Linked DNA regions of Homo sapiens: regions 2 and 3 are each linked to region 1. Evidence: fine-mapped QTL for protein levels in blood plasma. A gene starts in region 1. Each other region holds a variant in brackets. All regions are shown on one strand. Distances are between the middles of the regions. Region 1 holds the start of ADAM12 (ADAM metallopeptidase domain 12). Region 2 overlaps ADAM12 (ADAM metallopeptidase domain 12). Region 3 overlaps ADAM12 (ADAM metallopeptidase domain 12).

Evidence for each region. A credible set is the group of variants that fine-mapping cannot tell apart. PIP is the chance, under the fine-mapping model, that this variant and not a neighbour inherited with it causes the effect. Protein levels are from antibody-based Olink assays in UK Biobank. Linkage for the fine-mapping came from a reference panel and not from the study's own genotypes, which makes the PIPs less certain.
Region 2: its variant is the best candidate, but not a certain one, in a credible set for the plasma level of the ADAM12 protein (UK Biobank, PIP 0.62).
Region 3: its variant is the best candidate, but not a certain one, in a credible set for the plasma level of the ADAM12 protein (UK Biobank, PIP 0.77).

What each region holds. Positions count from the first base shown.
Region 1 is chr10:126,382,966-126,393,806 of GRCh38, reverse strand. It overlaps ADAM12 (ADAM metallopeptidase domain 12), which reads left to right and starts at 5,330. Exons shown (of 23, transcript NM_001288973.2): 1 at 5,330-5,749. The coding sequence starts at 5,662.
Region 2 is chr10:126,345,853-126,356,693 of GRCh38, reverse strand. The region is part of intron 1 of ADAM12 (ADAM metallopeptidase domain 12); the gene reads left to right. Among named protein-coding and RNA genes, the nearest start is that of ADAM12, 37 kb to the left of the region's middle. The variant A/G (reference allele first, on the strand shown) is at 6,546.
Region 3 is chr10:126,083,309-126,094,149 of GRCh38, reverse strand. It overlaps ADAM12 (ADAM metallopeptidase domain 12), which reads left to right. Exons shown (of 23, transcript NM_001288973.2): 11 at 17-165. Among named protein-coding and RNA genes, the nearest start is that of FANK1-AS1, 120 kb to the right of the region's middle. The variant T/G (reference allele first, on the strand shown) is at 5,092.

The DNA of each region.
Region 1 (10,841 bases):
GAAACCTCATTCCCCACCTCAGCTCTACTCCACTGGTCTGCTTGAGGCTCCTCACGACATGGCAGCTGGTTGCCTCCAGAGCGAGCAACCTGAGTCAAGGAGGAAGCTGAAATGCCTTTCATGATTTGGCCTCAGAACTTACACACTGCTCACTTAGGCTGCGTTTTGTTAGAATGAGTCACTAATTCACAATTGTAAAGATATGGAACCAATCTAAATGCCCATTAACCAATGAGTGCATAAAGAAAATGTGGTATATATGCACTATGGAATACTACTCAGCCATAAAAAAGAATAAAATCATGTATTTTGCAGCAACTTGGATGGAGCTGGAGGCCATTATTCTAAGTAACTCAAGACTGGAAAACCATATGCCATATGTTCTTACTTATAAGTAGGAGCTAAGCTATGAGTGTGCAAAGGCACACAGAGTGGTATAATGGTCTATGGAGACTCAGAAGGGGAAGGATGGGAGGGGCATCAGGGATAACATATACTACTTGGGTCCCAGGTGCACTAAAATCTCAGAATTCACCACCATATAATTCATCCATGTAACCAAAAACCACTTGTACCACAAAAGTTATTGAAATAAAAAAAAAAGAGTCACTAAGCCCAGCCCACATGAAAAGGGAAGATGATTAAGCCCTCTTTTTTTTTTTTTTTTTTTTGAGACGTAGTCTCGCTCTGTTGCCCAGACTGGAGCTGGAGTGCAGTGGCACGATCTCGGCTCACTGCAAGCTCCGCCTCCCGGGTTCACACCATTCTCCTACCTCAACCTCCCGAGTAGCTGGGACTACAGACGCCCGCCACCACCCCCGGCTAATTTTTTGTATTTTTAGTAGAGACGGGGTTTCACCGTGTTGGCCAGGATGGTCTCGATCTCCTAACCTCGCGATCCGCCCACCTCGACCTCCCAAAGTGCTGGGATTACAGGCGTGAGCCACCGCACCCGGCCAGCCCTATTTCTTAAATGAAGTATCCTCAAATGTTTGGTCATTCTTGTCATAGTTCATGTTTGTTTTTGAGATTCCCCTTTTCCTTTCGCTGTGTGCTGGCTTTGCACTCAGCCTGCCCCCGCTGATGGCGGGAGAGATAAGCACCTGGTCTAGGAGGCTGTCTCAGCAGCTGCTGCTGCTCCAGGAGGTGTCTGTTTCTCTTAGTACTGTCAGTCACTTGGGGTACGTAAAATGGAATCTGGGGGTGTGTAGGGAGGGGCATAATAAGTTTCCCATCACAGTACAGTCATGAGTCACCAAATGACATTTTGGTCAATCACGTGGTACGCACTTGAGCACTTGTAAGGATGCTCCCATAAAATTATAATGGAGCTTCTCTATCCGGGTGTACCATTTTTTAAAATCTTTTCCACTGTATTTTTACTGTACCTTTCTGCCTTTTTGCTGTACCATTCCCTACAGTATTCAGTGGAGTCATGTGCCATACAGGTTCGTAGCCTAGGAGCAACAGGTTATACCATAAAACCTAGATGTGTAGTAGGCGGTACCACCTAGATGTGTGAGTACACTCTGTGATGTTCACACAGCGACAAAACTGCCTAATGATGCATTTCTTAGAATGTATCTTTGTTAAGTGAAGTATGACTGTCACTTGGTTGGAGAAGTTGACTGGTCAGTGGGTAGGTGACATAGATGAATATAGATGGGGTGACCTTTCCTGTCTCTTGTGACACAGCGCATCCCCGAGTTCCTTGTCCCCAGCCCCAGGAGCATTCTTTCTTTGGCGTTTAGTGCTACTTAAGTGCTAATTCTGTGCAATAATGAAAGCATCAGAGACAAGAGGGTTTAATCTGCCCAGAAGAGGTTCACTGGGGGCAGGTTTCTGAGGAGGTGAAGGCATGGATTCTTGAAGTGAGAGATCTAGGAAAAGAAAAATGGACTACATGTTATTATAATACGCCGAGAGGAGCAGGAGTTTTCATCTCTCCAAGAGATAGAATAAAAATGATTTCCAAGAATCTTAATCTTGGGGTGATCACATTTGTTTACGTTTGGAGTAAGCCTTGGGAACTGTGCTTGGAGAGAGGAAAGCTGTTCTGCAAGCCTGTGTCTGAAGTTCTGTCAATAGGTCACTCTGCAAGGAGGCCGGCTCTTCACTTACTGCAGAAATTAGCAGTGGCTGCCTGTAAATTCCTGGCTTAGGAAAGTTTGTCTCCGTTTTTCATCTGCTTGTACTCAGAGCAGATTGAGCTTACATGAGCTTGGGTAAGAAATAAGTGCCCTGTTCGTTGTGAATGCCCAGGCTGTTAAACGAAAATAGCACACAGGAAACAGTATTGCAAAGGTCAATTCTTCCAGAAAGGAAGGGACAACCAGCCATCTATCTGAAATTTTCGTGTGTAGATCCTGGCCTCTGACCCCACACCATTACCTAACAATCCAGTATTGAATGTGATGTCGGCTTCCATTTCCTGTGAATGAGGAGGCAGAATTTCCATCCAAAGACAGACCATCTGCCAGACGCAGGATTTGCTCTTTGCCTTAGCTGGCTGTTATTGATGTCTATGAAGGCTTTGTGGAGACAGTGTCAGCCCAGGCCGCTTGCTTCACAGAGATGGTGAATTACAGGGTTGAAATCCAGAGCTTGCAGCCAGGATTTTATTTTTCTTCATTTTTCCTCTGCAATGGCTGTTTTCTTTCGTTCAGTCAGAAACAAATCAAGGACAGTCTTGGGGCACATTTAGTTCTTTGGAGGAAGCTTTGCAACATCCAGGTTTAAAAGAAATTGGACTTTTACAGTCAACATTAACAATTGAATATGAAAGAGCGAAAATAAATTGATCATTAAGAGAAAATGTATACAAGGCCCCCAGCCCAGTGCACAGCACATGTTAGGTCCATTGTGAATAAACCATTTAACCAGTCAGAAGGATCCGAGAGGCCAGTGGCTGGGCTCATCTGCAAGCAAATCTGGCCCTTTGAGCTGGAAGAAAACAATTTTTAATTCTCTTGCGTCGATGTGTCTGAAGTTCTATGGGCCACAAGTATCAGGATCACCTAAGTACTTGCTAAAACTTGTCCTTCCCAGACCTTTCTAATGAGAATCTCCAGTGCAAACGCCAGAGGAATTGAATTCTTAACAGACATCCCAGGGATCAGGTGGGTTGGGAGACATTGCATTATTTCACCTGGTGCTCACAACCACCTGGGAGGTTTGTATTTTACCTTCACTTAACAGCTGCTAAAACTGAAGGTTGGAACTCAGCCTTAAAGAAACAGGCTTTATCTTTAACAGATCTGAGGTTGGGCTCTGACCTACTTCACTGTGTGGTGGTGGGAAAGCTACATCTCTATGCTGCAGTTTCCTCATCTGTATATTCAGGACTTAAAAAATGAAATAATGCAGGTGAAAGACGTTAGCACAATACTCCGATTATACGAGGTATGTAATGAATTATGAAGTAGTAAATAGTCTGTTTTCGTGCTGCTGATAAAGACATACACAAGACTGGGTAAAATTATACAGGAAAAACGTTTAATGGACCTACATTTCCACATGGCTAGGGCAGAAGACATGAAGGGGCAAGTCATGTCTTACATGGATGGTAGCAGGCAGAAAGTGAGAGAGAGCTTGTGGAGGGGAACTCCTCTTTTTAAAACCATCAGATCTTTTGAGACTTATCCACTACCATGAGAACAGCACAGGAAAGACCTGCCCCCATGATTCAATTACCTCCCACCAGGTCCCTCCCACAACACATGGGAATTCAAGATGAGATTTGGGTGGGGACACAGCCAAACCATATCAGTAAACAAGCCTAATCATTATTAACTAGGTTAAGTAACTAGCTCACACTGTCCAATAATGATGATTTATCAGTTTGATCAGAAAGAAAAGTCTTTGAAGGCAAGAGGCTTTCTCGTTTAGTTTCCCAAGTTCTAACATAGGGTTGCTCATGTAGATTGACTGAATGAATGAACAAAAGAAGTACACTGCAACGCTGGTTGGTAGTACGGTTAGATATGACACAGGGCTTGAACCAGGCCTGGTTTCCAGATCTGGTACTGAGATATGGCAGCATTGGGAAGGGGGCTGGAGAGCCTGTGCTTCCCACTAAGGTTTTTTAAAAAGAAAGTCCTGCACCTTGTTAGGAGGATCGACCTGGGTTTTGGGAACACTGCAAAACCTGCCGTGGGAGGGAACTCCTGAGAAAACTCCTCTGCAGTGGGAAGAGATGGTATGGAAGGCAGCTTCCTCAAATGCTGGATAACCGCCTCCTAGGAGTGGGTGCTCCGTCAGGAATCGGTGCGAGGTCGCAGGACCAGGATGGAATTTCTGCAGGTGGTCCTAGGTCTGAGCAGCACAGTAGAATCACCTGAGGCTTTGAAAACTATTGAGCTCCACGCATTGTGGGAAACTGAGTTAACTGGTGTCTGGGGCTGGCAATGTCTTTAACTCTTACTATTCTAATAAGTCCCCAAGGTTGGGAATCATGGTAACCCGCAGGGTGGGCATCAGCCATCCTCCATAGCTCCAGCCATTTCTGTCTGTGCGGGCCCCCTCGCTGCTGCTTTTCATGGTCTCCCTGAGGGCCGAGCGAGGCTGAAGAGGTGGGGTCAGCCCGGAACAAGGATGAGAAGGCAAGGCGCACCATTCTTTCATTGGTGTTTCTCCAAACACCCTGGGCTCCCCTGGCCTCACAGCCTGGAGAGTCTCATTCTGAAAGCGTAGGAGGGCGCCCGGGAATCTTTTTAACAAGCCAACCCAGGTGCTTCTTACAATCAGGAAAGTTTGGGGAACGTCACTGTACACCCTTTTCTGGGTCCAGGTCATGGAATGGAAACGTGAGCCAATCTATCAACGTAAAACCTAACACTGTTGATCAAAAGTAACGCCCAGGTGTCTTGTGCCTGCGAGTCCAAGCTTGTTTCTCGGGCGAGAGATGCCCCTTTGGGCGCTTAGGGCCGGGCGGGGTCGCGCGCCGGGCTGTGGGCCGCGGTGGAGACCTGACCCGCACTCCGAGGGTTCCCAGAGAGCCGGGGAGCGAGTAGCAGAGTCATCGTTTCCAGCTTCAGCCTGAAAAGCTGGACCGTGCCGCCGCATGTGCGCTTGGCAGCCGGGCGCCCCGGGCCCTGCGGCCACATCATCCTGGGGCGGGGACGTGTGCGCTCCGGGCGCCCGGACGCCACTGAGCCACGTCTGAGCCGCCCACCCTCGGGGGTGAGCGAGCCGCGGCTCGGGGCGGGACCCTGGCGGGGGGACCCGAGCGGTCTCTAGGACCCGCGGGACGCCGCCAACTGGCGGGGGTGCGGGGGAGACAATAATTTGTTCCGCGGTAATAAGAACGGTGACTGCTGGCCGTGGATCCATTTCACAGGCCTGCCTTCTCTCACTAACGCTCTTCCTAGTCCCCGGGCCAACTCGGACAGTTTGCTCATTTATTGCAACGGTCAAGGCTGGCTTGTGCCAGAACGGCGCGCGCGCGCGCACGCACGCACACACACGGGGGGAAACTTTTTTAAAAATGAAAGGCTAGAAGAGCTCAGCGGCGGCGCGGGCGCTGCGCGAGGGCTCCGGAGCTGACTCGCCGAGGCAGGAAATCCCTCCGGTCGCGACGCCCGGCCCCGGCTCGGCGCCCGCGTGGGATGGTGCAGCGCTCGCCGCCGGGCCCGAGAGCTGCTGCACTGAAGGCCGGCGACGATGGCAGCGCGCCCGCTGCCCGTGTCCCCCGCCCGCGCCCTCCTGCTCGCCCTGGCCGGTGCTCTGCTCGCGCCCTGCGAGGCCCGAGGTAAGTCGCCGAACTAGGGCGGCTCGCTGCCCGCCCCGCCGAGGGCACCGCACGCTGCGCCTGGGCGCGCCGAGGTCCAGGGCTGCCCCGAGGGGCGACGCGCCCCGGCGCATCTCCGGAGCCCCGGGGCTTGCGCTTCCAGCGCGGCGAGACCGACCCCCCCCCCCCAGGTGCCAATTCCTTGGGGAAGGGCGACACTTGGCCCGCAGCCCCACAGGAGCCAGTACCTGCCCCGGAGGGCACAGCCTCGGGACCGCTCCCCCGTCCTCACCCTCTTGGGTGACATTTGCAGATGTCTCTGTATCTTGACATTTACACGTGTCACTCGGGACGATGCGTGTCGGGTCCTCTTGCTGGCCCTATCCCGCAGTGAATATCCCCACCCCAGGCTCCGGGCCAGCCCTTCACCAGGTTTCCTTTCCAGCCCCGCCTCCCCCGCTAACACACTTAGGGGGGCGCGCAGCGGCCCCGCAGGTGAGGCAGCCCCCTCCTCCGCAGGTGTGCCTGCTGCTCTCCACAGCAGGCTCTATTTTCATAAACTGACTCTCTTACCTACTTCTTTAGTTTCCTCTCTGCCCCTCTTCCTGGCTTCCAGGTCACTCCCTAGCTGTCAGTCGCAGGCAAACTTTAGCGGAATTCTCCCTCCTTCCTCCACTCAGTTTCTCCGCCGTAAATAATCGCCCCCATCAACTTGGTGCACAGCGAGAACTTACTTAGTTTAACGTACTTAGTTTTACAGACTTAGGTTTTCCCGAGTTGTAGCCCCTTAAAATCGGGCACCTGTGGCTCCCGTTTGCACAGTGAGGACTCACCCAGCAGGTGCCTTTTTAAAAATCCGGCAACTTCCCCGGGTCTCCGCCGCCGCCGCCTTCTTTCTGCCGCCCGGGGCGCTGTCGGTCCACCGATGAACGACTTCCCTTGGCCGCAAGCTCTCAAGTTCTGTGATTCTATATAACAGGCATTTATTTTTCAACAACTGGCCTAAATCACGAACCGTTACCACTTTATGATACGTTTTATTTTGCGATTGCCACTGCTGCCCTCCGCCCCCACCGCGTCTACTGTAATGTGGCTAAAACCCAGTTCTTGTTAAAAGCCACACTGCGAAGACCAATTCGGGGATAAATGATTAAATACAAAGATTGCACAAAGCAATGAGAAAGTCAAGAAAGAATCCTGCTGAGGGTTTAAAGAACTCTACGACCTGTAGTGAATTGTGCTTTGAAAGACTTTTAAACAAATTGGTCCTTTTGAATGTTTATTAAGAAAGAACTTTTTAAAAAACGGAAAGTGTCTCAAAGTGTGCCTGACATGGTCTTTAACTTGGCACGTGCTTTGTACACATAAAGAGAAGTCTACTGAGCAGGGACAAATTTTTTTTTTGGAAGAAAATGTTTATTAAATCCAGCTAATAATGGGAAATTATTTCTTGTGTGTGTGGGCGGGGGAGGACTTTTACTATTTTATGAGTTCAGCTTTGGTAGAGAGAGTGTTTCCTTAAGACAGATATGACCCAAAATAGAAAACCAGGGAGGCCTAAGCACTTTGAATGGGTTACCTATTGTGATATATTCCAGGATTCACTGCTTGTTTACCCTTAGATTCTCAGTATCAAGTCTTCAATCAATCAGTGCCCCAAATCATACCATTGAGGCCGTATAAAACGCCAAACATATAATGAAACATTTCTTTGCATTGGCAAGAGAAAAGGAGGAATTACTACCTGTTGAGTCTGAGCATATTCTGAGTTTCTCCCTAGCCTTGTCTGTACCCTGAGCCCTGGCACAGTTGCCTACTTGGTACTTTCTGGGGCAACTCGGCCTAACAAGTCCAAAACAGAACCCTAGATCCCAGACTCTCTAGTTGCAAATCATTCCCTCCCCAGCCTTCCTGAACCCAGTAACAACCTCCTCTGCCTTCTCCACATGCCTTGTGCTGACATGCAGGAAGTCATCCCTGTGTCCCTCTTTTTACTCCGTAAGCCACCAACCTCCTAAGTATATTCCCACCTACCCACTTCCTTACATCCCGAAGTGTGCCTTTCCCAGTCCAGGCCACATTATAGGAAAAATCTCTTCTGCAGAAGCCTCTTATCCCTCTTACCCAACGGGCCTACTGGCTTTTCACCTTATCCCTGCATGGTATATTTTCCTCCACAATAGAGCCAAAGTTATTATTTTCAAACATGAGTTAGAGCATTCAAGTTTCCTGTCTAAAACTCCCCAGTGGCTCTCTAGCACCCTTAGGAAAGAAAATCCAAACCTCAGCATGACCTAATTCCTGTTTTCCTTTCTGATCTCCTTTCTTACCATTCTCCCTTTGCTCACCCTACTCCAGACACACTGCCTTCTCTTCTTTTCAACTACCCAATATAGTAGTGCCATCATTAAAAAAAAATTCAATGTTTGCACTAAGAAGACTTTGCAAATACTTTTCACTGTTTTGCCGTGCAGTGTTTTATGGCATTTCATCCCTCTTGTAACTTTTTGCTTTTCCTAGAGTTAATGATTGCCTTGTCTTGATTTTTGTTTGCTTTATTTTCTGTGCACCAAGCTGTGATATTGTGATATAATAAGAAATATGTCTCTGCCCCTGGTTCCTGGCACAGAACTCCTAAAATCCTTGGAATCTCTGGGGTATTAAGAGTGTCTTTTGTATGCTAATGAGCTTGTTAAGGCATGATTAGAGTTGGGACTTTTAGTGCCACCTCCCTTGCAACCTCCAGGGAGGGGAGACGGATTGAAGGTTGACTTGATCGCCAATGGTGTAATTAATCATGGCTGTGTAATTAGGCCTCCATAAACCCCCCAAAGGACAAGGTTTGTAGAATTTCCAGATTGCTGAGCAAATCAAAGTTCCTGGAGGGTGGCGTATCTAGAGAGGACACAGAAGCTCTGTATCCCTTTCCACATTCTCTGCCCTTTGCATCTCTTCCAACTGTTTTTCATCTGTGTCCCTAATTACATCCTTCATTAATATAATAAACTGGTAAATATAAGCAAGTGTTTTCTGTGGTTCTGTGAGCTTACCTAGCAAATTAACTGAACCTGAGAAGGGGGTTGTGGACCCCCAACTTATAGCTAGTTGGTCAGAAGTATAGGTGTGACAACCTACTACTTGTGATTGGCATCTGACATTGGGGGGAAGTCTTGTGGGACTGAGCCCTTAACCTGTGTGATCTGATGCTTTCTCCAGGTAGATAGAGTCAGAATAGAGTTAAATTGTAGGACTCCCAGTTGATCTCTACTGAAGAACTGGTGGTTGGTGGGGAGAAACTCCCACACATTTGGGTGACCAGAGGTGAAACATTCGGTACTGAGAGTGAGAGTAGGGAGAATACTTGGTTTTTGGTTTTTCCCATCCCTTACGCAACCTCTATTTTACTTCCACACTTTCTGGAAGAACTATCAACCTCCTTTCAATATGATCCAACACATCAGGTAGTCTAGCCATGATTTTTTTTTTCCTGATGTCATCTTTCCTAGAGCCCCTCATCCTCCTGTTCCAATGTGACTCACGGGTTACTTTTTAGGCATACATTACAGCTGTTATCTCAGGACTACCCTTATTACCAAGACGCTAAGAATTCCTCTTGCATCCTTCCTGTGTTGAATCATCTGTATTCTGAGCACTGTAAATTTTTCTTAGTTCATTCCTCATTTCTGTGGAGCACGTTTTCCAGTAACTTCCTGAGGATGGGTGTTGGGAAGATACAACTTTTTTTGATAACTTGTGAATATGTCAGGGATGCTTTCAGCTGCAAATAACAAAAAAACATGACAGCAGCAATTTTTACAAGCTCGTATTCTTTACAAGCAGTTGCAAAGTAAGTATTTTGGTGGCTGGTGTAACTGGTGTGTCAGGTCACTGATGTGATCGGGGACCCAAGCACTTTCTTTTATTTCTATCTGCGATACGTAGATGTTGACTTTTGCCTTTATGCTTACTTCCTCATGGTCTCATGATAGCTGCTGTACCTCTTGGCATCATATCTGCATTCCAGGCAGTAATACAGCAGAAAGGACAAAAGGCAGAACCAGTCAAATCTATTTTCATCAGGAAAATAATATTTCCATAAGCGTTTGTAGTAGATTTTGTCTTAGATATCATTGGCTAGACTGTGACCCAGGGCCCCTGCTAGCTTGTACAGAATACTAGAAAAGTAAATATTTTTAACTATGTACATTGCTGCTTCAAACAAAACAGTTCTGTGAGTAAAAACAAAGGTTGGAATGTGTCTCTGGCATACCTTGTATAAAATATATAGATAAACACACATTCATTCATTCCACCCTTGATTGCTAGTTTGTTTAGGTATAAAATTCCAAGAAAGAAATCATATTTTCTCAGTATTTTATAAGGCATTTCTTCAATGTCTCTATGGCCATTACTGCTTGAGAAGTTGATGGTATTCTGCTTGTCAAACCTTTAAATGTAGTCTTTTTTTCTTTTTGGAAGTGATTATCTTTTTTCGTTGTCACTAGTATTTTTGCGTTTTATGATTATGTGCTTTAGCAATGCTCTTATCAGTAATTGTTAGGAACTCAGTGGGCCCCTTCAGTTTGAATATTCATGTTGTCAAGTTTTAGTATACTTTCTTATATTCGTTCTTCAATTATTTCTTCCTCACTGTTTTTACCACAGCTTTTCTGAAACTGCTATTAGCTGAATGTCCCAGCCTCCTGAAAACATCCTTTAATTTTCTTATCTATTTTTCATCCCTTTACATTTTTGTTCTACTTTCTGGGACAGTTATTTAATTTCATTTCCCAACCCTTCTATTTAAATTTTTTGGCTGGGCACGGTAGCTCATGTCTGTAATTCCAGCACTTTGAGAGGCTGAGGCAGGAGGATTGCTTGAGCCCAGGAGTTCAAGACCAGCCTGGGTAATATAGTGAGCCACACCCCCCAACCCCACCACATCTCAACAAAAAATTTTTAAAAAATTAACTGGGCAAGGTGTCACACACCTTTAGTTCCAGCTACTCAGGATGCTGAGGTGGGAGGATCACTTGAGTCCAGGAGGTCAAGGCTGCAGGGAACCATGATCATGCCGTGCTACTCCAGCCTCGGTGACAGAATGAGACCCTGT
Region 2 (10,841 bases), 37 kb after region 1:
TTAAGAGGATTATTCTGAATTCTTTATCACTTTATAGATATCCATTTCTGTAGGGTTCATTTTTGCAGTTTTGCTAGTTTCTTTTGGTGTTGTCATGATTTCTGAATCTTTGTAATGCTATGTTCTTGCACTGGTTTTTGCGCATTTGGGGAGACAGTCACCTCTTCTGGATGTTACAGGTGTTCTTTGGCAGAAATACACCTTTACTATTTAGTCTAGCCTGTGATTCCGGATGGGCCAATTGGTAATGACCCCAGGCAGGCAAAGCTTGCTTTCCATTCTCTAGATGGCTGGGATGCTGCCTTTGCTTTGAGTTCTGGTAGAGCTAAGCTAGCTGGGCTCAGGTGTCAGGTGAGAGCACTAGCTGAACTCTGTAATTAGGCAGAACTACTGGCTGGTCATTGCAATTTCCTCTGATTGGGCTGGGCTACAGGGTGTATTCCTTCACCAGGTGGTACTTTTATTTGAATTCTTCAGTTGTACAGAGTTGCAGGAGGTTCCCTGGGGTTAGGTGGAGTCATTGCTCAGGAAGGATGGGATTATCTGGTGCTTCAGTAGAAATGTATGCTTGAGGTTTGCGTCTTTGCCTAACCAGGGCCTTAGGGTAGGCTTTGAGGTTAAGCTGAGTGCTGTTTGAAGTTTTGGGTGTTGCAGAACTAGCTCTTGCTCTTTACCAAAATGTGTAGTCGTGGGGAGCTCTCTCCCCAGGTGGAGCCTTCAAGTAGAGCCTAAGGCTGGGCCTGGAAGATGGCTGTTGGGATTCAAGCCAGGCACAACTTTTCACCACTTGGGAGTGACCATCTTGGCTTTGCAGGTGTGCTATGCTGTTTGCTGGTACCTCTCACTGGGGGCTGCCACTGGAAGATACACAGAGATATCACCAGTATCTGCTGTGGGCCCTGTCTCCTTGCTTTGTTTCTAACTGACTCCAGCTGGTCTCGCCATGCCGCTACCTCGAGCATTCTTTATGAAGTGAGACTGAGGTGGGCTTCCTGGGAAGCATCTCAGAATGCTAGAGAAGCTAGATGTCTGCTTCTGGTTCTCCCTGCCCACTGCAGAAACCATGGGCCCTGAGGCATCCTCTCTGTGTGGCACCATGCTGAATGAAAGGATGGAGGGAGAAGCAGTGTGGTCAAAGTGAGACCATTTCTCCTACCCTTCCAATGCAGACTTCATTCATTTCTGTAGTCTAGGCAGGTCTCTCAGGCTTATTCCCAAGTTTTGGGGTTTTGACCCACATGTTCCTGTCTGTAGATAATTGCTAGTTGAAATTTCTGTGGGTGATAGTAAAGCCTGGGGCCACCTGTTCCACTATTTTTGCCCACTTCTCTTTATTTACAATTTATCTTTCCCCTTGTTTAGACCTGTCGGAGATTTAGATATGTATTTGGCCTGTCAGAAGAATTTAGTCTTGGATTTATTAATCAACACTATTCCTTTTATTCATAGCTTTTAATTTAGTCATTTCTGGTTTTATTTCTTAACTCCTTTGTCTTTTTATTGTTGTGATTTTTTGGCCGAATGTTTAGTTCATCTATGTTCATATTTCTTGATAATAAAAGCAGTTAAAACTATACATTTTTTGTTAGTCGAGTTTTGGTTTCATTCCATATATTTTGATGTATAAATTCACTCAACACAATTATAAAAATTTTTTACCTTTCAACATTTTTTTCCTGTGGGGAATTGCTATTTGACAATTGACATAAGAACTCTTGTGGGTCAGATTTTCTGTGAACTATGAATTCCAAGATCAATGCAAGTTTTAATATAAATATGTGAAAAGCTCCCATCTCCCTATTTTGCCTCCCCTCCAACATAAAATGAGTACAGATTTAGAATTTCATTGGTTAAATATATCTTTGAGTATTCATTAAAAAAAAAACAAACTTTAGCAGTGGTTACTCAAAATCTTGCCATAGTCAGTTCTGCAGTATCCACTAAAAGACTTAGATTTTTATCAAAATTTCTTTCCCCCTAAAGTCTATGTGGTGGAGCTTTCTTTTAGAATCATCAACCAGTTTGTTCTTGGCATTAAACATTATCTTTTCTCATTAAAGCTCTAATTTTTTTAAAAAAAGCTAATGATGAAAATTTTAGTTATAATTTAAATGAAATTTGCATGTACAATTGTCAGTAAGGACTATGAAACATAAACAATTACATAATTTTTGAGATGCAGCAGATCCTAGAAACTCACTCAGTCCTGTGGTTGCCAACCTTTCTCCATCTCCCGCAGACGTTCTACTGCATGCCAGATACCATGTGCAGTAACTTCTGAATCCTCTCATCCCCCTACTTCCAGAACACAGGACTATGAGTTACTTGAAAGCTGAGGCTTGGTAGAGGGCTGGAGCCAATTGCGTTAAACTAACTAACATTATTGCAAAATATATTCTAGGGCTTTTACTCTAATAAAAATGACTCCTGGAACTGCAGTACTATATTCTTGGAACCCCAAGAAACCAGGTGACAACCCATAAATTTACCATCACTTTTCAGATGAGGAAGGCAAATCTGGAAGGCCAAATTACTTGTCCAAAGATAGACACCAAACCAGTAAAGGAGCAGGATTTGATGGAGGGAGGATGAAGTATCAATGAAAAAATAAGTCTAAGTAAAGAAATGCAAATATCTTTTTCTTTAAAAAAAAAAAAAAGCTTGTTAACATTATAAAAAACATTTCAAATATGGCATCTCAAGTTTGAATTGGTTAACTTCCTTTAGGGATTTGGAATTTTCTGTCAACATGATTCCCCTGGCCAGGATTAAGACATGGTCTTGTAGACTTGTAAAAGGGTATTATCCCTGGAAAATATGCTGTTCAAAATAAGGGCAGCTGGAAGCCTACAGATGACTGTTTGTGCCAGAGCAGTCAATTGATTACCGCAGGGAGCTTTCCCTTCTTTTTAAGGACTCTGGAGAGTTCATTATGAAATCTTTTGAAAGATACATGAGCAGGACCAGGCTAGACCTGGATTCCATTAGCTTTGTCTATTCACAAATAGTGGTTAGTATTAGAAGAGTCATAAATCTCTTATTTATTTTGCTATCAGAGACCTTCATAAAACTCAGCTCTTTAATAAACAGGTTGAGATACTCAGCAAACTAAATGGAAAAAATGATAAACTAATGTAAACACAGCATTTGCCTTGTTTATCATTGAGTGCCTGTCTGTGCTTGTTGCTTTCTGAACCTTGAATGCTGTTACTGCAGACCCTCCCTTTGTGCCTAGTAGCCTGTGTCCCTTGGGAAACCTCCTTCACCACTGTCCTCTCACTTCAGCCTTGGCTCCTTTCTCCAGATTGTGGAAGACATTCTCCCTGGGAGCTCCACCATCTTAGTATGACACTGTTGCTTTCCCCACTTGTACCGTAACATCTTTCAGATCTAGGCATGTGACCTTTGATTCCAACCTCAAGGACTTGGCCTAGCACATAGCTGGTGCTAAATAAAAGCTCCTGGTTACACAATGATCCATCCATGAGGTTGTGAGCTCATTGATATCAGTGTTCAAGTCTCCACTCATAGGGTGTTACAGCCATTTAAGTATAGGGAGTGATGGCAATTCCTTTTGAATCTGTGGGCTGCATTTGGTATGCAGGAGATGCTCTGATGTTCCACGAATGGGAGGAAGGATGTTCTGGAGCAGTGGAGAGAAGCCTGCTTTGATCACAGTGAGGATGCACCCACAGCAAGAGCAGCCTTTGTGCTTTGACTTTAGCTGGTGGTCAGAGATGGTTGTTTCAAAGGCTAGGGTCTCTGAGACTGCTGGTCTACCAAATGGTCTGCACTGAAACCATTCCCTGGGAGCTTGTTTTGAATGTACATTCTTATATCCCACCTTGAATCTGGATCACATCACTGCCATGGTGGTGACACCCTATTGTTTATTCCTGTTGTTTATGGCAAGGTCCCCAGCCTCCAAGGCTCACTTCCCACCCAGCCCTTCCCCTGCTCAGCAGAATGGGGTGAATAAAACCTACTGTGACATCTTTGTGCACTGGCGTGAGGTGACAGATGCAGGAAACACTTTGTAAACTGTCAAGCGCCTGGCAACTGAAAGACATCCGACACAAGACAGCCATTAAGTAATTACATGCATAGCAACGCTGACCAGCTGTGGTCCAAGCAGTTCATATAGTACCAAGTTTCCTAACTTGGTGTCATTTGAGAACTTACTTTCATGACTTTTTAATAAATGTATATCACCTGTGCCATACACAGGTTTGCTTTTCTTAGTTTATCTTAATTTTTCTTAATTTATCTTAAACTTTAAGTCAGTATACACATTTTGCTTAAATTTGTTTAAGAAGGAAGTTGTACTTCAATATTCTAAATAGGCCAGTATCACTTGACATAAATACTATAAAGATAAATTGAAGGAAAACAAAACAATGTTATTAAAATGCAGCCAGACAATAGTGTCTGTTGGTGTCCCTGAGCCCAAGACCTGTTCTCTTTGTGAAAAAGGGCAGAGAGCCAGTGGCTGGGAGGTTTTAGGCATGGAATACCAAATGGACTTTTTCCTAATTAGAGGGCTTGACGGGAAACTGAAAAGTGAATAATTTGTTCCCCCCTTGACCTTATGTTAAGTGTCAGCACCGCCGAGGACACCTCCATCAAGCCAGCTGGGTGTGTCTGGCCCTTTGAGGGGTGCTGTTGAGTGCTGGGTTCTGAGGCTTGAGGCCGGAGGTCTTCAGTGAAGTCCCTGAACAACTCAGTGAGTCTTTGTCTAAAGCAGAGGGGACGAGGCCGGAGTCCTATAGTGACCCGAGAGTACTTTCTCAGTCCACTCTTCCTGTGTGTGTCCAAAGGCCAGATGAGGGCTGAGTGCTGGAGTGGGGGGATTATAAATAACCCCTGAAGCCAACTAGAGTCTTTGGGCACTCAGCACTTCTCACTGGGGGTGGGGGTGCAGGGAGAGCAATGCACAGTTGAAGGCATTGTCTTGATGAGGAGGTTTGAGATTTGTTCCTGGATCCTGGATCCAAACCCATCAACCAGGGGGTGTTTTCATGCAGGTCACTGGAGGGCTTCTGGACCTCCCCCTTCTCTATCACATCTATTCAGCATGTTGATGTAGCATGTGGGAGGTCCAAGGTGCAGTGCTGGGGGATCCGAGGAGAGGAAGCGGCAGTCTCTGTCGCAAGGAGTCAGCTCCCCTCCAGTGTGGCCAGGTAGTAAGCACATGCCATGCATGGGCTCTGTGTCAGGCAGGGAAATCCAGCACCAGAGGGCCAGAGCAGGAGGGACCATTTCTTGTAGGAGGCTTCAGACAGGGATCCATTGTAGTGCAAGCATGCAGGATGGTGACCACCAGTGAGGCCAAGAACTGGCCTATCCAGTGGGAACCCTCTTGATTTGGATAGGGCTGGCAGAGGACAGAGCTCCCAGAAGCCAGTCACAACCAGGACACATCTGGTGAGGTCCGGACAGCTGCAGGAAAGCCGAGACTAAAGGGGGAAGTTGGGACAGAAGGGAAGGGCAGGGTGGGGTGGGGGAGCAGGGCACATGTTGTCTGGTGCCAGCTTTGGGCTGAACAGGTGGGGTCTGGGCCTCCGGGCTGAGGGCACTGCCCGTGGACACCTCTGCCACAGCCTAGCTTCGCTTGAAATCCTGGCCATGGCCTGCTTTCCACACCCTGCTTCATTTCACTATGTGACCGATATGGGTACACTGTGGTGGGGGAACATGGCCCAGACTGATGGAAGACCAGCATGAGCAAAGGTGCCATGCAGGAGAGCCTGGACAGGGGAAGGGGCAGGGCTCCGGGGGTCGGCAGCAGTTCAGGTCACAGGATACTCTGGATCTGAGGTACCCATGGCAAGGCAGAGCCCTGGATGTGAGCCTGAGCTCTGCCCACTGCCAGAGGCGTGAATTCTGGCCAGGTGCCCGGCCTCCAAGGCTCACTTCCCACTCACCCTATCCCCTGCTCAGTAGAATGGGATGAATCAAACTTCCTGCAGCATTCCTGTGCACCGATGTGAGGTGACACATGTGGGAAGCACTTTGTAATCTGTCAAGTGCCTGGCAACTGGGAGACATCCGACACAAGACTGCCACTGACAACAGACACAGCTGCTCACACATGCAGGTCACTGCGGAAAATGCTCCAAGAGATGGACAGAGTCAGGCTCTGGAGCAGGAACTTCCTAGAATGATGGAGTTGACAGGGCCAGGTGAGTCTAGTTGTGGTGGCCATGCCCAGGCAGCTGTCTCTGTCCCGGGGCTGAATTCCTCTCCCCTCTTCCTCCCTTTCTCAAAGTCAGCCTTGTAGAGAACTTGCTTCACTCGGGCTTGGCCGACTCTGTGTGTGGGTGTGTATTTTCAAGAGGAGAGTTTCTCTCCATGTGGCTCTGATTTATGCTGATACTGTCAAGTTGAAAAACACAAATTGCTTGATTCCACAGAAAATCAATTTGACAATTTCTTTGCTCCCCACCCAGCCCTTGACATGAACAGTAATCTTTAGGGCACACTGGAAAAGTTAGGAATTACAATGTGTGCCAGTGTGTGGATGCTGCTTTGTTTTAGTTGTTTCA[A/G]TTTTTTCCAGTTTCTTCTTGGGGACAGGGAGAGCATTGAAATATTTATAAGAATATCATTGGCCGGCCAGTGACAAGTACCCTCAACTCTCTCTTAGATGGAAGCTGTGTCCACGTGCAATCACAGAGTTGAAGGAAAGATGAAACAAAGGCTACTATGTGGCTTCTTGGCTCTAAAGACAAATATCTAGATTTCAATCATATGCATTTTCCATCTAGAAATCTGTCTTCTGGAGAAAACCCATACCTGAAGAGCAAGCCAGCATACCTGTGTGATTCTGCCCACGGAGAGTTCCATTATGTAATCTTTTTCTGCTTAGCAGAGATAAATGTAATAGTATTTGCATTGTTATAGATCTGATAGATCTGGTGTCGAAACAGTTTGCCTAGATGGAAGAGATATGCGGATTGTTGAGGCTGTAAGGGACGTTGAAAGTTCATCAAAATAGGAGTTGCTTCCTTTGATAATTTCATTCTCAATTGGACCTTTAGAGGGAAGTTTCCTCTTTGTATAAGGAATTATGCAAATGTTTATTTTATAGTGGATATATTTGGATTCCTGTCTCTTATTTTATAACAACTGCATACTAAAACAGGCACCTCTGGCACCAGCCCCCTCATAAACTTAGCTTTCTTTAACATGTTTTAAAAGCAAATAATTTTGGTATTGTGGTCTGCTGCATACATCATTTGTTGTTGAGCCAGGATATTATTTGAGAACTGCAAAGCTCTCTAGGTATTACCTCCCTATATAAACCATGTGTTAGAAAGATATAAATTCAGTTTTGAAATATTTGTTAGACTGCTTTTGGCTTTCAGTCCGTGCCAAACATGTGCTTTGGTGACAGATGGAGTCATGTGGGCCCCTGAATGAAACACTGCATTGTGTATAGACTTTGTCTTCCAGCAGTTGGGTTGCAGAAGCTGGGAGATAAAGAGGATCCAATTGCTATGAGGTGTGTTCTCCAGTGAGCATAGGATCCTTTTCCCCCTCAAATATGTCACTAGGTTATTTGGTCTCAAATTCTGTGCCATAGAAAATAGTGCTGTACACTCTGAATTTATCTAGAATAATTAAATGTAAAGCATTCTCATGTTAACTTCAAATTTTGAAACTAGAACATGTTTCCTAAGAATCTATTGAAACGTATTGGCTTTGCGGGCCTGTAAACCATTCAAGGAAGCATGGACCTAGGATTGCCAGATAAAACAGGACTCCCAGTTGAATCTGAATTTCAGATAAACAACGAATTTTTTCTTAGCGTAATTATATCCTCAGTATTGCATGGGACATATTTATCCTAAAGAATTATTCATTGTCTATCTGAAATTAGATTCAACTGGAAGTTCTATATTTTGATTTGCTAAATTTGATCATTCTACTTGGATCCCAATTTATGGTTCGCTCTCATAAACAGTGACTGTCAAAGAACATTCCTCAGTGATGAAGGCTCTGTGAGTTTGCAAGTCCACGTGGCACAGAGACAGAGGAAATCTCAGTTCAGTCATCCTGCAGAATAAAAAGAGTGTTCTGTTAGAACAAAGTGGACGTAGATCACATCTACTGCACTTCTGATTGGGCTCGGTTGAATACTTTTTTCTCCTCATATGCATCCGTTCTCTCTCATCTCCCCCTCTTGCATTTGTTCCCACATTGTATAGGCAGAGCACGGAGGTGAGGGCATAACTCGGAAAGGCATGCTTGGGCCCATTCTCTTTCCATATAAGAAGCTTCCTTTCCCTCCCCCATCCTCCCACGTGAATGCCCAGATCCTGCCCATTCAAAGCCTGATATCATTGGCATCCCTGTTGTGAAGACATCCTGGACCGCCTCAACTGAATCAGGTTTCTAGCCCAACTCCGATTGCTCTTAAAGGCACTATCCCTTTCCGTCTTCTTTACCAGACTCTGTGCTCCCAGTAGGCAGGATGCAGTCTAACTTAAGAAAACACCCAGGGAGGAGCCTCCAGGCTACTGACATTCAGAAGAGGTTTCTTTTTCTCTCTTCTCTCTGTCCGTAACTTCTAATTGAGCACTAAATGTACAGGTGCTAAGACAAAGGCTTTCCACAAATCCTCTCCTTTCTCAATTGCCCCAGGGGTTAAGCACCCTGTACTCCAAAGGTCCCACCTTTGGTGAAAAGCAGAGCTCACTGGAAGGTGTTGTTCTAGACTCCCATGGAAACCTGAAATGCTGTTGACTCTCAGCCTGTACCATTGGTACCCCATTTCTGAGCAGCAGCAGAGAATTCGTCACTGGATGTCTGACTCCCAGCCTCCACTCTCAGGGCAGGATTCAGGGTGACCCAGAAGTTTGTTTTAGAAATAAACCTGTTTAATATTCTTAACACATAAAGTTTCAAATAAATAAGAGAAAAACAGGCTAATTAAAAATTGGCAATAAATGTGAGCAAACAACCCCCAAATTAAGAAATAAAAATAACTGATGAAAATATGAAAAGGCTCAATTTCAGTGATAAGTAAATGCACATTGAAACAACAAAGAAATTTGTTTTCTTTATAAGTGGCCAAACATCATTTGTAGGGCTTTCTCTTTATAATGATTGGCTATTGACAAGGCAGGCCAACATTCAAATTCAGGAAATACAGAGAACGCCACAAAGATACTCCTCAAGAAGAGCAAATCCAAGACCCATAATTGTCAGATTCACCAAAGTTGAAATGAAGGAAAGAATGTTAAGGGCAGCCAGAGAGAAAGGTCGGGTTACCCACAAAGGGAAGCCCATCAGACTAACAGCTGATCTCTCAGCAGAAACTCTACAAGCCAGAAGGGAGTGGGGGCCGATATTCAACATTCTTAAAGAGAAGAATTTTCAACCCAGAATTTCATATCCAGCCAAACTAAGCTTCATAAGTGAAGGAGAAATAAAATCCTTTACAGACACGCAAATGCTGAGGGATTTTGTCACCACCAGCCTGCCCTAAAAGAGCTCCTGAAGGAAGCACTAAACATGGAAAGGAACAACCGGTATCAGCCACTGCAAAAACATGCCAAATTGTAAAGACCATTGAGGCTAGCAAGAAACTGCATCAACTAACGAGCAAAATAAGCAGCTATCATCATAATGACAGGATCAAATTCACACATAACAATATTAACCTTAAGTGTAAATGGGCTAACTGCTCCAATTAAAAGACACAAACTGGCAAATTGGATGAAGAGTCAAGACCCATCAGTGTGTTGTATTCAGGAGACCCATCTCATGTGCAGAGACACACATAGGCTCAAAATAAAGGGTTGGAGGAAGATCTACCAAGCAAATGGAAAACAAAGAAAGGCAGGGGTTGCAAACCTAGTCTCTGATAAAACAGACTTTAAACCAAGAAAGATCAAAAGAGACAAAGAAGGCCATTACATAATGGTAAAGGGATCAATTCAACAAGAAGAGCTAACTATCCTAAATATATATGCACCCAATACAGGAGCACCCAGATTCATAAAGCAAGTCCTTAGAGACCTACAAAGAGAATTAGACTTCCACACAATAATAATGGGAGACTTTAACACCCCACTGTCAACGTTAGACAGATCAACGAGACAGAAAGTTAAAAAGGATATCCAGGGATTGAACTCAGCTCTGCACCAAGTGGACCTAACAGACATCTACAGAACTCTCCACCCCAAACCAACAGAATATACATTCTTCTTGGCACCACATCGCACTTATTCCAAAATTGACCACATAGTTGGAAGTAAAGCACTCCTCAGCAAATGTAAAAGAACAGAAGTTATAACAAACTATCTCTCAGACCACAGTGCAATCAAACTAGAACTCAGGATTAAGAAACTCACTAAAAACCGCTCAGCTACATGGAAACTGAACAACCTGCTCCTGAATGGCTACTGGGTAAATAAGGAAATGAAGGCAGAAATAAAGATGTTCTTTGAAACCAACGAGAACAAAGACACAACATACCAGAATCTCTGGGACACATTCAAAGCAGTGTGTAGAGGGAAATTTATAGCACTAAATGCCCACAAGAGAAAGCAGGAAAGATCTAAAATTGACACCTTAACATCACATTTAAAAGAACTAGAGAAGCAAGAGCAAACAAATTCAAAAGCTAGCAGAAGGGGCAAGAAATAACTAAGATCAGAGCAGAACTGAAGGAGACAGAGACACAAAAAAACCTTCAAAAAATCAATGAATCCAGGAGCTGGCTTTTTGAAAGGATCAACAAAATTGATAGACCTCTAGCAAGACTAATAAGAAAAGAGAAAAGAATCAAATAGACGCAATAAAAAGTGATAAAGGGGATATCACCACCAATCCTA
Region 3 (10,841 bases), 300 kb after region 1:
TTGTGTTTTCTTTGAGGACCATTCAGACAATCCCCTTGGTGCAGCCGTGACCCTGGCACATGAGCTGGGCCACAATTTCGGGATGAATCATGACACACTGGACAGGGGCTGTAGCTGTCAAATGGCGGTTGAGAAAGGAGGCTGCATCATGAACGCTTCCACCGGGCAAGTACCATTGCTTCCATCTGCTTTGACAGTGTGCATGGCTTGAAGTGTGTGTTGGGAACCAGATGAGTCAAAGTGTCTCTGGTTTTCTGGTCAGAGCACCCAGGGAAGCTTCCAAAAAGTAATTCCTTCCCAAGAAGCAAGGGTGGCCTGTGCTACTCTGGAGAGCCATGGGCAGCCAGATGGCAATGCTACATGGTGTGTACAAGGAAGAGGGCTGACCTTTTCCTTGAGGAATGGTGGGCATGGATGCTGTCTGTGTTTAGAAATCGCTAATTATCTTCCTGTCCCAGCAAGTGTTTTTTATTTGAGCCTACGGCTCCAGCTGCCAGGCAGTCCCAGGAGCCAGCCATCTGAAAGCCTGGGCAGTGGAGATGGGCCACATGTAAACTCACTGGGCAGAGTGGAGATGGGCCACATGTCTTTAGAGGGTGCTGGGTAGAAGGTATTTCTTTCCCCAGGGTTGGCCCTAGGGTGTCTCTGAAGTCGGTAGCTTGGGGGTTTGTAGTGTCTCTGCCCTGACATCACCTTACCAGATCTTAGAGGTTTAAATGAAATGATTTCTCTGCTTTGGTATATTACAATGCTGTTCCTTATTTAATGCTTTCCTGACACTCCCGACTTGGTTCAACCAGAAAAGAGCAAGACAGTTCCATTATTTGGAGTGTTCAAACGAAGTGGAAACAGATGCACCTTGGAGGGATTAGAGATTCAGATGTGTTCTTATATCTATAAAGGGCCTATCCCAAACTAGAACTTTGTGCTAGTTTAAGAAGATTCTCATTAGTAACGGGAAGCATGCGCTGGATACAATGCTATCTTCTTTATTATACCTTGAAACCTTATGAACACTGACTTTCATGGAACATTCCAGCCCAAGCCTGCTCTCTGGGTTTCCCAAAAGGAGACACTGGGGCAAGAGGCAAGTGCTCTGAGCAGCCCAGTGACTCATCTCTGTGAAGACTTGCTGGCCAGGGGACAAGCGTGGTGTGAGGGGATACCTGCTACTGCGGTTTAAAAGACCCAGTAGAGGGAGGAATTGTTAAAGAATGTGTCTGTGCTTTTTCAAGCAATAGCCTTGTGGGCCTCCTGGGAAATAGTTTGTAGGGCATTGAGTTGCCCTTGAAACAAGAACTGAGCAGAACCACACAGCTCATCAGGGGATTGTCCTTTCATGGGAGCCATCAGGAGGCATCTTCTTACAGCAAGTGACTGATTCCTCATGTTCATCGCCCCCATTTGGGCAGAGGCTTCAGGGGCATCTTTCTGTTTGTGGTTCCCTCTTAAGCATAATTCAAGGGAGTCACCAAGACTTTGTTGAGGAAGTTGCTTTGTGAGTGTGTAATGACAGAAACCAAGGATCTGTACACAAAGTCAAAGTACTAACCGATAGGAAATGAAATATTGCAAAACTCAAGATACTAACATGTGTGTCTCTCCAAAAGGGAGGCCACCCTAAAAAGTAATATGTTCCTAGTCACTAAAGGTGTCTGAGAGGAAGCACAGTAATTGTTTGCTGGACATTTGGGGCAAGGATTTCCTTCTTAGGGTATAAGGTTGGGCCAAGGGCCTATAGATGCCTTCTGTTTCCAACATTTCACAAGCCCTGATCGCTATGCTGGGCCACACGCTGGGTGACTTTCAGACAGTGAGTTTGGCAGGAGACTGATGTGCAACTGAGTGGCCTTCGTGTTTTCTCACTCTCAATGAACTCATAGCCATAGAAAATGCACTGTGTGTCTAATTTCCCTGATCATCAGATGGGCACAAATACATTAGCCTATGGGCCTCCAGAAATGGTTTCCCATGACTAAGAAGATCATATTGTTAATATTGTTAATGTTTTTTAATTATTGATAAACCAATGGAAGAGAGGAAAACCTAGATCAAGAACACTGGACTTGAAGAGATCTGGTTGTCCCAATTCTCACACCATTTTTTAAAATAATATAGGCAGTTTAGTAACCCCCTGGCTCTTACATTCCTCATCAATAAGATGAGTGAGTCAGTCTTCATCCACCCATCCAACCATCTATCCATCCACCCATCCACCCTTCCTTCCTCCTTTCTTTCCATCTGTCTCTCCACCCACTTGTTCACATATTAAACAAATATTTTTGACCCCTGTGCTCGTGGGGAGGAATGCACAGATGATGAAGACTCTACAGCTCTAAAAATTATATAATTCTGAAGGCACAATAGCAAGGCATATTTTCTGGCACTCTATATGGTTTTATCTAAATCCTTTCCAATTGGAAAGTCTTCATGGCAGTGCTGAAGAATGCAAGCCAGATCGCCCCAGAGATATTTGAACACCGTAGGTAGAAATGGTATTGTTAAGAGCTCGACAAATCATTTAAAAGGCTTTTTTTTCCCCCATTACCAGGGGTTTGCTAATAGCCTTTATTTGATTTATACCATATTAGCAATTTCTGAGTTTTCTCTTTTGCTGAGCTTGTGCTTTTGTATAAATCTTTTCTATTTGCTTCTCATTTATGATCCCACATTCCTGTCCAGAGAGTGGTGTTTTTAATTTTCTCAGATGGAAAGCAACTTCCTAAGCAAGTAGGTGAATTAATCACAAAAGCCCACAGTGAGGGGGAGGTCGAGCGGCTCAGTCAACCCTCAGTCATCCATCACCCGTGGTGGAGTTTTCCCGGCTGCTCCGGTATTATCTCAAAATGGTGGTTCTCTTACCTCATAGTGTCTCCGAGAGAGTGGGAGAATGGACTCAATGAGATCACATGTCTGTAAATTGTAAATCATTCCACAAAGGTAGTATATTATTACTTAGCTTACAGGGGTTTTGGAACTATCAAAAAGTTAAAGGCTTTTTTCAGAATTCCTACTCATCATTGCTGGAAAGACTCCCAGTGCCCTTAGCAGTCACTCAGCAGCATGTCCACAGTTTCCGTGTGATGGCTCACTTTAAACTGGCCCACATCCAAACACCAGCCAGCCTGTGTCTTCCTCCTCCCACCACTGATGGAGGCTTGGGGATGTCAGTTAAATTCAGTCTCAGCTCCAAAGGTGATTCAGAGATGAATCAGTAACTGCTTTAATGATATTAACATCTCAGAATCAAAAAGAACCAAGTATTGTAGATGGCTTAAAGGAGAAAAGTATATCCCTTCATATACCTTGTTTATTCTTTATCAAAACATTCCAGAATCCTAACTCTGAAAACATTAACCAATTGCTGTCACTGACAAATGGGACCTGAGGCCTGTAAATACAAGGATAGAGTCCTATTTCAACTTAAGACTTGTGTGACTTCAGTTGCACATTGCAGGGATGGTTGGAGGGGGTTCCTTATGGATTGTATCATTAATTACTGCAAGGCTTTAAGTGTGTGTAAGAGTGTGTGTTTTATGTCTCTAAACATTTAAGACCTGTCCTGGAAATGACTCTTTGGCAAAAGCAGTATCTGGGGATTCATGTGGGAGTTTAACTCAGTTGAGTTTATCCATTAATGAGCTTGGAGCCCTTGGTCTTAGGGAGGTGAGGGCTACGTATGCTGCATTTATAGGAGTAAGAAAATTGTGAATGACTTGAACACTCATAGCAAAGAATATTTAGCGTAATAGTAAATGTCACTTCCTAGAGTAGGAAAAAAGGCAATATTAACATTCAAAAAATGACTCTTACAGATTCCTTTTTTTTTTTTTTTTTGCAGAAAGTTTCTGTTAAATGAGAGTTGGAGGAATAGGGCCATCTCCTCGGGTGGGGTAGGTGAATCTGCAAGTCATATTCACCGAGCCCCTGCCACTGTTACACACTGATAGGTGTTAGGGACACAGCTGTGAACAGGACAAGCCTGTTTCTTGCCCTCTTGGAACTGGTGTTCTAGTGGTGAAAAGAGTTGAAAAATGGAAAATTTAAAACTTGCAGTTTGGGCCAGGTGTGGTGGTTCACACCTGTAATCTCAGCACTTTGGGAGGCCAAGGCAGGAGGATTGCTTGAGGCCAGGAGTTCAAGACCAGCATGGGCAACATAGCAAGACCCTGTCTCTATTTTTAAAATAAAAAAATAAAAGTAATAAATTGCAGGTTGGAAGGAGTGCTGTGAAGGAAGCAAAGGAAGAGGACAAAGAGAGGAAACATGGGGTGAGGGAGCCCACTTTAAGTGGGGGTTTGGGGGAGGCCAAAAGGAAGACAGGGATGGAGAGCCTGCAAAGCATGGAAGGAAGGGAGTTCAGGTGCAGGGGACCATGGGCCTGTGGGCGCTGTGGGGACACCTTGCTGCCAGGAGCCTTGGGGCTGTGGGGGGCTGGAGGGAAGTGATGCTGGGTAGAAATGGAGGAACCAGAGCCAGCAAAGCCCAGTTGGCCAGAGCAGGAACGTGGATTCTTATCTGCAGAGCAGCGGGACATCATTGAAGCTTCTCAGGCAAGATAGGAATATGATCTGATTTATCTTTTAAGGTTTCCTCATTTTTAAGAAGACCATGCAGCCTCTGAGATATTGTAGTTTGCCAAGTTAAGGGGTTTTCTGTCTGTACAAAAAAGAAGAGGGAGGCTTCCTTTAGAAGAACAAGTAATAATAGTGTGTGAATTCTAGTTTAGTTCTGGTGTAATTCATAGGCATTTGGAAACTGTGAAGAGGAAGGATCCTTCACCAGCACACTCGGTGCTCATCACGCCACGCTCCACACTCACCTCTCCAGCCTTGTACACTTGATGTAAAATATTTCTTTTGGTTTGAGATTTCTTTTTCCTTTTCCTATAGTGAGCATCCTTTAGGGATTCTGTCAGAGAGCCACCAAGGAGCACATTCACATTTTCTTCATGTGTATCTGAAAAGAATTGTTGCCACAGTTGTCACACGGATGCTGAAATCAGGAGTTTGGGCCTGTCTGGGTTTTGCTGGGTCTATACTGGCAAATGGCTTCAACTGACGAGTGTGTCCCCAGCTGCCAACTGGGAGT[T/G]GGGGCGGGCAGCGTGTTCGTGTTGTGCACTGAGGATAATGTGGGATGAGAAAATAAGCAAATGAGGGTTACCCCCTGCTCTCCTGGGGTGCAAATCATTCACATTAAGCTGAGGTCAGACCTTCTGCAATCTACACCCAGATCAAATGACCACGTTTAAGGAGAATGTGTTGCCATCCTACTTCCCCGCAAGCATGTATAACTGGCCCATTCGATTACATTTAATTCCATTCAGGACACATTCATGGCACACCTGCCTGGACACGGAACACAAACAGATGTGTCCCCAGGTCTAGGTGGCCTCCACCCAGGTCAGCCTTCTCTCTCTCTTTTTGTTTTTGTTTTTTGAGATGTAGTCTCTCCCTGTCACCCAGGCTGGAGTGTGCAGTGACACAGTCTCGGCTTACTGCAACCTCTGTCTCCCAGGTTCAAGCAATCCTCCCACCTCAGCCTCCCGAGTAGCTGGGATTACAGGCACACACCACCATGCCCAGCTAATTTTTTTTTTTTTGGTATATTTAATAGAGATGGGGTTTCATCATGTTGGACAGGCTGGTCTTGAACTCCTGACCTCAAGTGATCCGCCTGCCTCAGCCTCCCGTAGTGCTAGGAATGCAGGTGTAAGTGACCATGCACAGCCTCGGCCTTCTCTAATGACATCAGAGAAGACAGCAGCCCTGCCCCTGACTCAGGACAAGCTTGCTACAGGAAATGAGGTCAACAGACGCGCAGCTGGCCACCAGGCAGAGCAAAGCCACTCATTTACTCCACTAGTATTTACTGTGTACCCTCTAGAGGCCAGATCCTGGGGAGCAGTTTCGGAGCAGGCACAGAAACACAAGGCAGGATCCTTGACTTCAGGGACCTCACTGCAGGGTACCTCATCAAATCTGCTTACACAGTCCGGGTATCAAGCACCATCTAGAAGTGATTTCAGTGTGGGCCTCTAAAAGACAGAGAGAAAAATCTATAACCATAACATCATTTCACATCTTTTAAAAAGCGACCAATAATTTATTGCAAACAGGGAGCAAAGGTTAGAAGAGGCAGCAGGCAGAAAAGATATCCTGGAATAGAGTCCAGTCTAAACCGATCTCGGAAGAATTAAATACAGGCTGGGCAGACCGCTCCCTGAAAATTCCTACCTCATACTGTGGGAAAACTGGATTTCTCTTGGAAGAGATTTCTGCCTGAAAAGGTGTTTTAAGAGGGTAAAATGAACTGCAATTTTCAGTGAAAAAAATCCCCCAAGGGCTTTGGAAGTGGTAGGAATTGATAGAAATTCAATGTAGCGGGAAAGTCCACACTCTGTAGAACTTGCTTTCCTGAAAATCAGTGGACAATACATATCGTTAGAATTCTCCCTCGAACTTTGGGGTGCTGTTGGAGATTATGAAATACATTTGTCATGCTGGAATTTTACCAAGATGGAATTGAAGGGAATTATTTTTCCATCTTAACTCTTCATTTGAGAGTGATAATTTTTTTCTCAATGAAAAGTTTAAGAAAATCTTCATTTCCTTCCTCAAAGTGTTAGGTGAAAAAATGGAAATCTTTATCCAGAGAGAGAGAAAAAAGGAGGAACAGCTACAGAATGAGGAACTCTGGTAAGATGAAAACACTACTAGTTAGAATCAATTTAATTACTCAGCCAGAGTAATGGAGTCAGCTGTACCCCGACATTATCACAGGGAAAAATGAACTGGCAGGAGGGATTCTTGAAAACAGTTCAAGAAGGGCGCATCAATATGCAGCCTGTTCTTGTTTCTTCTCCATGTAATTAGATATTGCTCACTGGAAAATGAAAGAATTTGTGTGCAATTCCATTAGAATATGAAAAGCTGCTGCCCAAGTTAGAATTGTCCTCCCCGTTAAGCTGTACACAAAATAGAGGTCAAGCTCGGGAGGCTGATTCTGTGTGGCCACTGATCCTTGAATATCCAGTTTAGGGGATATTGACCCTGAAGGACTGCATTCATGGTGTCCTGTTTCATCGATGAACTTTTTAAATTTAATTTAATTTTTTTGAGCTGAGCCTCGCTCTGTCACCTAGGCTGGAATACAGTGGCACGATCTTGGCTCACTGCAACCTCCACCTCCCCAGTTCAAGCAATTCTCCTGCCTCAGCCTCCCGAGTTGCTGGGATTACAGGTGCACACTACCAAACCCAGCTAATTTTTGTATTTTAGTAGAGACAGGGTTTCACCATGTTGGCCAGGCTGGTCTGGAACTCCTGACCTCAAGTGATCTGTGAGCCTCGGCTTCCCAAAGTGCTGGGATACAGGTGTGAGCCACGCACCTGGCCCATGGATGAACTTAGTGAGATGGTCATGACTATACCTATTTTATTTTATATATATATATATATATATATATATTTTTTTTTTTTTTTTTTTTTTTTTTTTTTGAGGCAGAGTCCATTGGGGCCATCTCGGCTCACTGCAACCTCTGCATCCCAGGTTCAAATGATTCTTGTTCCTCAGCCTCCCAAGTAGCTGGGATTACAGGCGTGCACCACCACACCTGGCTGATTCTTTGTATTTTTAGTGGAGATGGGGTTTTACCATGTTGGCCAGGCTGGTCTCAAACTGCTGGCCTCGAGTGATCCACCTGCCTTGGCCTCCTAAAGTGCTGGGATTACAGGTGTGAGCCACCGCACCTGGCCAACTATACCCATATTACTGGAGCTCAGAGTGTTAAATGAACTGCTTGCATTTTTCCAGACCGACCTAAGTAGAAGCCCCAGGACATAAAGTCAAGCGGCTTTTTCCCAGTGTGTTTGACACATGGAAGTGGCCGTGAACACATCTGGGCTTTATGAGAGAACTAAAGCTGCCTCAGTACAGAGCCATGTCCCTGTGCAACCTCTGGGAGGTGGGAGGTAGCCCCATTTTTAAGCCATTTAATTCTGCAAACCTCCTTCAATTTATGTTCCAACAGCAGAGAATGCTTTCCTGTCACTGGCTCGTTAACCCAGCATTTTATTTGTTGTACAGCATGTGTGAAAACATTTCAGCTGAAATCCTGCCAATCCTGCAATCCCCCTCCCACACACTTACCCCCATGGCTTCCTCCTCTCCCCAGGCACAGAGGCCACAGTGTAGGGTAAAGGATTATTTCTAGACTTCTCTACAACAGACAATATCCAAAAGGACTCATTTTCAGCTCCACAAGGTCAGGAATTTGTGTTTTGTTTATTGCTGAATCCCCAGCACCTAGAACAGTGCCTGACACATAGTAGAGCTCAATAAATACTTCTTGACTGAAAGGATCCATGAGCGGGTGGCTGGATGATGGATGCATGGATGGGAGGAAGGAAGGATAGATAAATAATAGGTAGATGGGTCAGTGGATGAATGGATAATGGGTGGGTGGAATGATGGATGGATGGACGGATGGACAGACAGACAAAGGATGGATGGAAAGAAGGAAAGATGGGTAGATGGATAAATCAATGATAGGTAGGTGGATAGGTGGATGAATGGATAATGGGTAGGTGGAAATGGATAATGGATAGATAGAAATGGACAGATAATGGATAGATAGATGGTACAATGGACAGATGGATAGACGTTGGCTGGGTGGGCGGATGGAGAGAGCGATGATGAGTACAGCACAATTAGATAAGTGCAGAGTGAGGTTTTCTCTTCCTTATCTGTGTAATGGCAAAATCTCTGGGGAGAACGCTCTGAGGCCACTGTCTTTTGTACTAAATCTAGCAATTGCAGCAGCAGCATTTTCATTTTTTGTTTATTCCACATCATTCTACAATGGATTTACAATAGTTTGCAATGATACACACAATACAATAAATAGAAGAAAATAAAAACAAAATAGAGCAGAGAAAACCCAGATAAATAGGAGGCAGAGTCCACTGCTTTTCTGTACATAATCCATGGAGACCTGGGTGAGGGAAACAATTTGCTTTCAAACAGTAGAGTCTTTCCAGCAGGGCCTTCCCCTGAAAGTCTTTGCTTAATTTAGCTAAAGTGGGAAGAGAGAGATCAAAAATATCAAATCTAAAAGCAGTTGTGAGCATAAGACTTTGTAGAACCATTCTCCAGTTTACAAAGATCTTTGGCATCTCCTTTCATTGTCACAGCCCTAAAAATAAAGAACAGGTACAATCGTCTCCATTTTACAGGTGAGCACACTGAGGCTCAGGAAGGCCAGAGGGCCCACAGGTGGTCAGGGTCATTCTGGATCTCAGCCTGCAGCCTCAGGCTCCTGATCCATTCTTTGGCCTTTCACTGGGTACCTGTGAGCCTTTGGCTCGCAGGCTTGGGGATGGGGAGGGTTGAGAGGGACAGCTCTTTCCCATTCTTGAGTTCCACATTGCCCTGGTGGTAACTTCAGTGTCAGTTGCTCAGTGGGGCAAGAACTGGGCACATGTAGACTTCAGCCCTGGTGGCAGGCTTGTAGATATCTACCGTGACTGCTTTTTCTATCATGTTTGATTAGAAGCCTCTATCCTGTTACAGGCTTGCTAAGTCAGCAGAAAGAACTAGCGTATTCTGTGCAGGTCTGTCTACTGGGCTAGGAAGAAAGGGTGGTACCATTTCAGACATGCCCACTGTCCATTATTAACCACTGCATCTGTCCATGTCTACGAGAGTCTGCTCCTCCAACAACCCCCACACAAATTCAGCAGTCATTTCTTGCAATGAAGCTGAGTAGCTCGTCTGATACATGGCCTCTGATGGGCTGAGGTCCTTTTAATATGGACACTGTGTCCCCCGCCCCTGGGTTCTTGGTCTTTCAGGACTTGGTGCAGGAAGAAATAGCCATCGTAGCTCAGAAGTGAAAAGTCCACTTTCTGGTAACGTCCAGAAGCTTCCTGTACATGTCTCAACTGACCAGAGCTCAGTTGGTGACTTTATTAAAAATTCTGGGAAATTATATTTGCACTTAAATTGGTTTCAGGGAGGAGGAGCAGAGGTCAAAGTTCACAAGTTAAGACCATGAATTATAATGTGCTGCAGATGGCTGCATTCTGGGGCCCAGGTGTTTGCTATTAACAATGGAAATGGCCTACTAAGGATCTTTCTGGTCATTTGCTCCTGGCCTGGTGGTTTTCTTAGCTTTCTGTGGTCCGTCTGGTTGGCCCACTGGCTCAGCGTCCAGTTATAAGGCAGTCACTTTCTGTTTCTGGAGTGGACGTGAGGATGGATTGCCCCATTAGCTTCAGCCTCGGTTCTGTTCTATCGTTTGAGCCTGTGTGGTCAGAGCTGTGTCCCTGTGCACCGCTGGGCAGGCAGAGTGGGCTGACTCAGGCCCAGCTCCCTCTCCCATCACACCATGAGGAGGAGTCACGAGGCTTTTGAGGCGGGGCGCCTATTTCCCCTGCCTGCAGCTCATTAGGGTCTCAACAGGCTTGCAGCCCTCCTCAGGTGTGCACGATCTGGCCCAGGTATCACCTCAGGCTAGCTGGATGAATCCCAAGACTGGGCCTTTGTCTTCTGTTACACCAAAGACCTTTAGGGAAGTCCTCTAAGGTACACCTGGAAGGAAGTGTAGAACCTTGGGTGTTCCTTCTGTTTACGTCTGGCTCCAGGGAGTCCCGAGGCATCGGAGCAGCTGCCTCTCCCAACCCATGGATACTACTGCTGCTGGCATAGCCATTTGTGCTGGGTCATGCCTGAGGCTGCCCAGAGGCCCTGCCCTGGGGCAGCTCCTGATAGCCCTCGAGACGGTGTGGTTGAGTGGGAAGAACACAGGCCTTCTAGTCAGATCTGTGCTTTCAGTCTCCA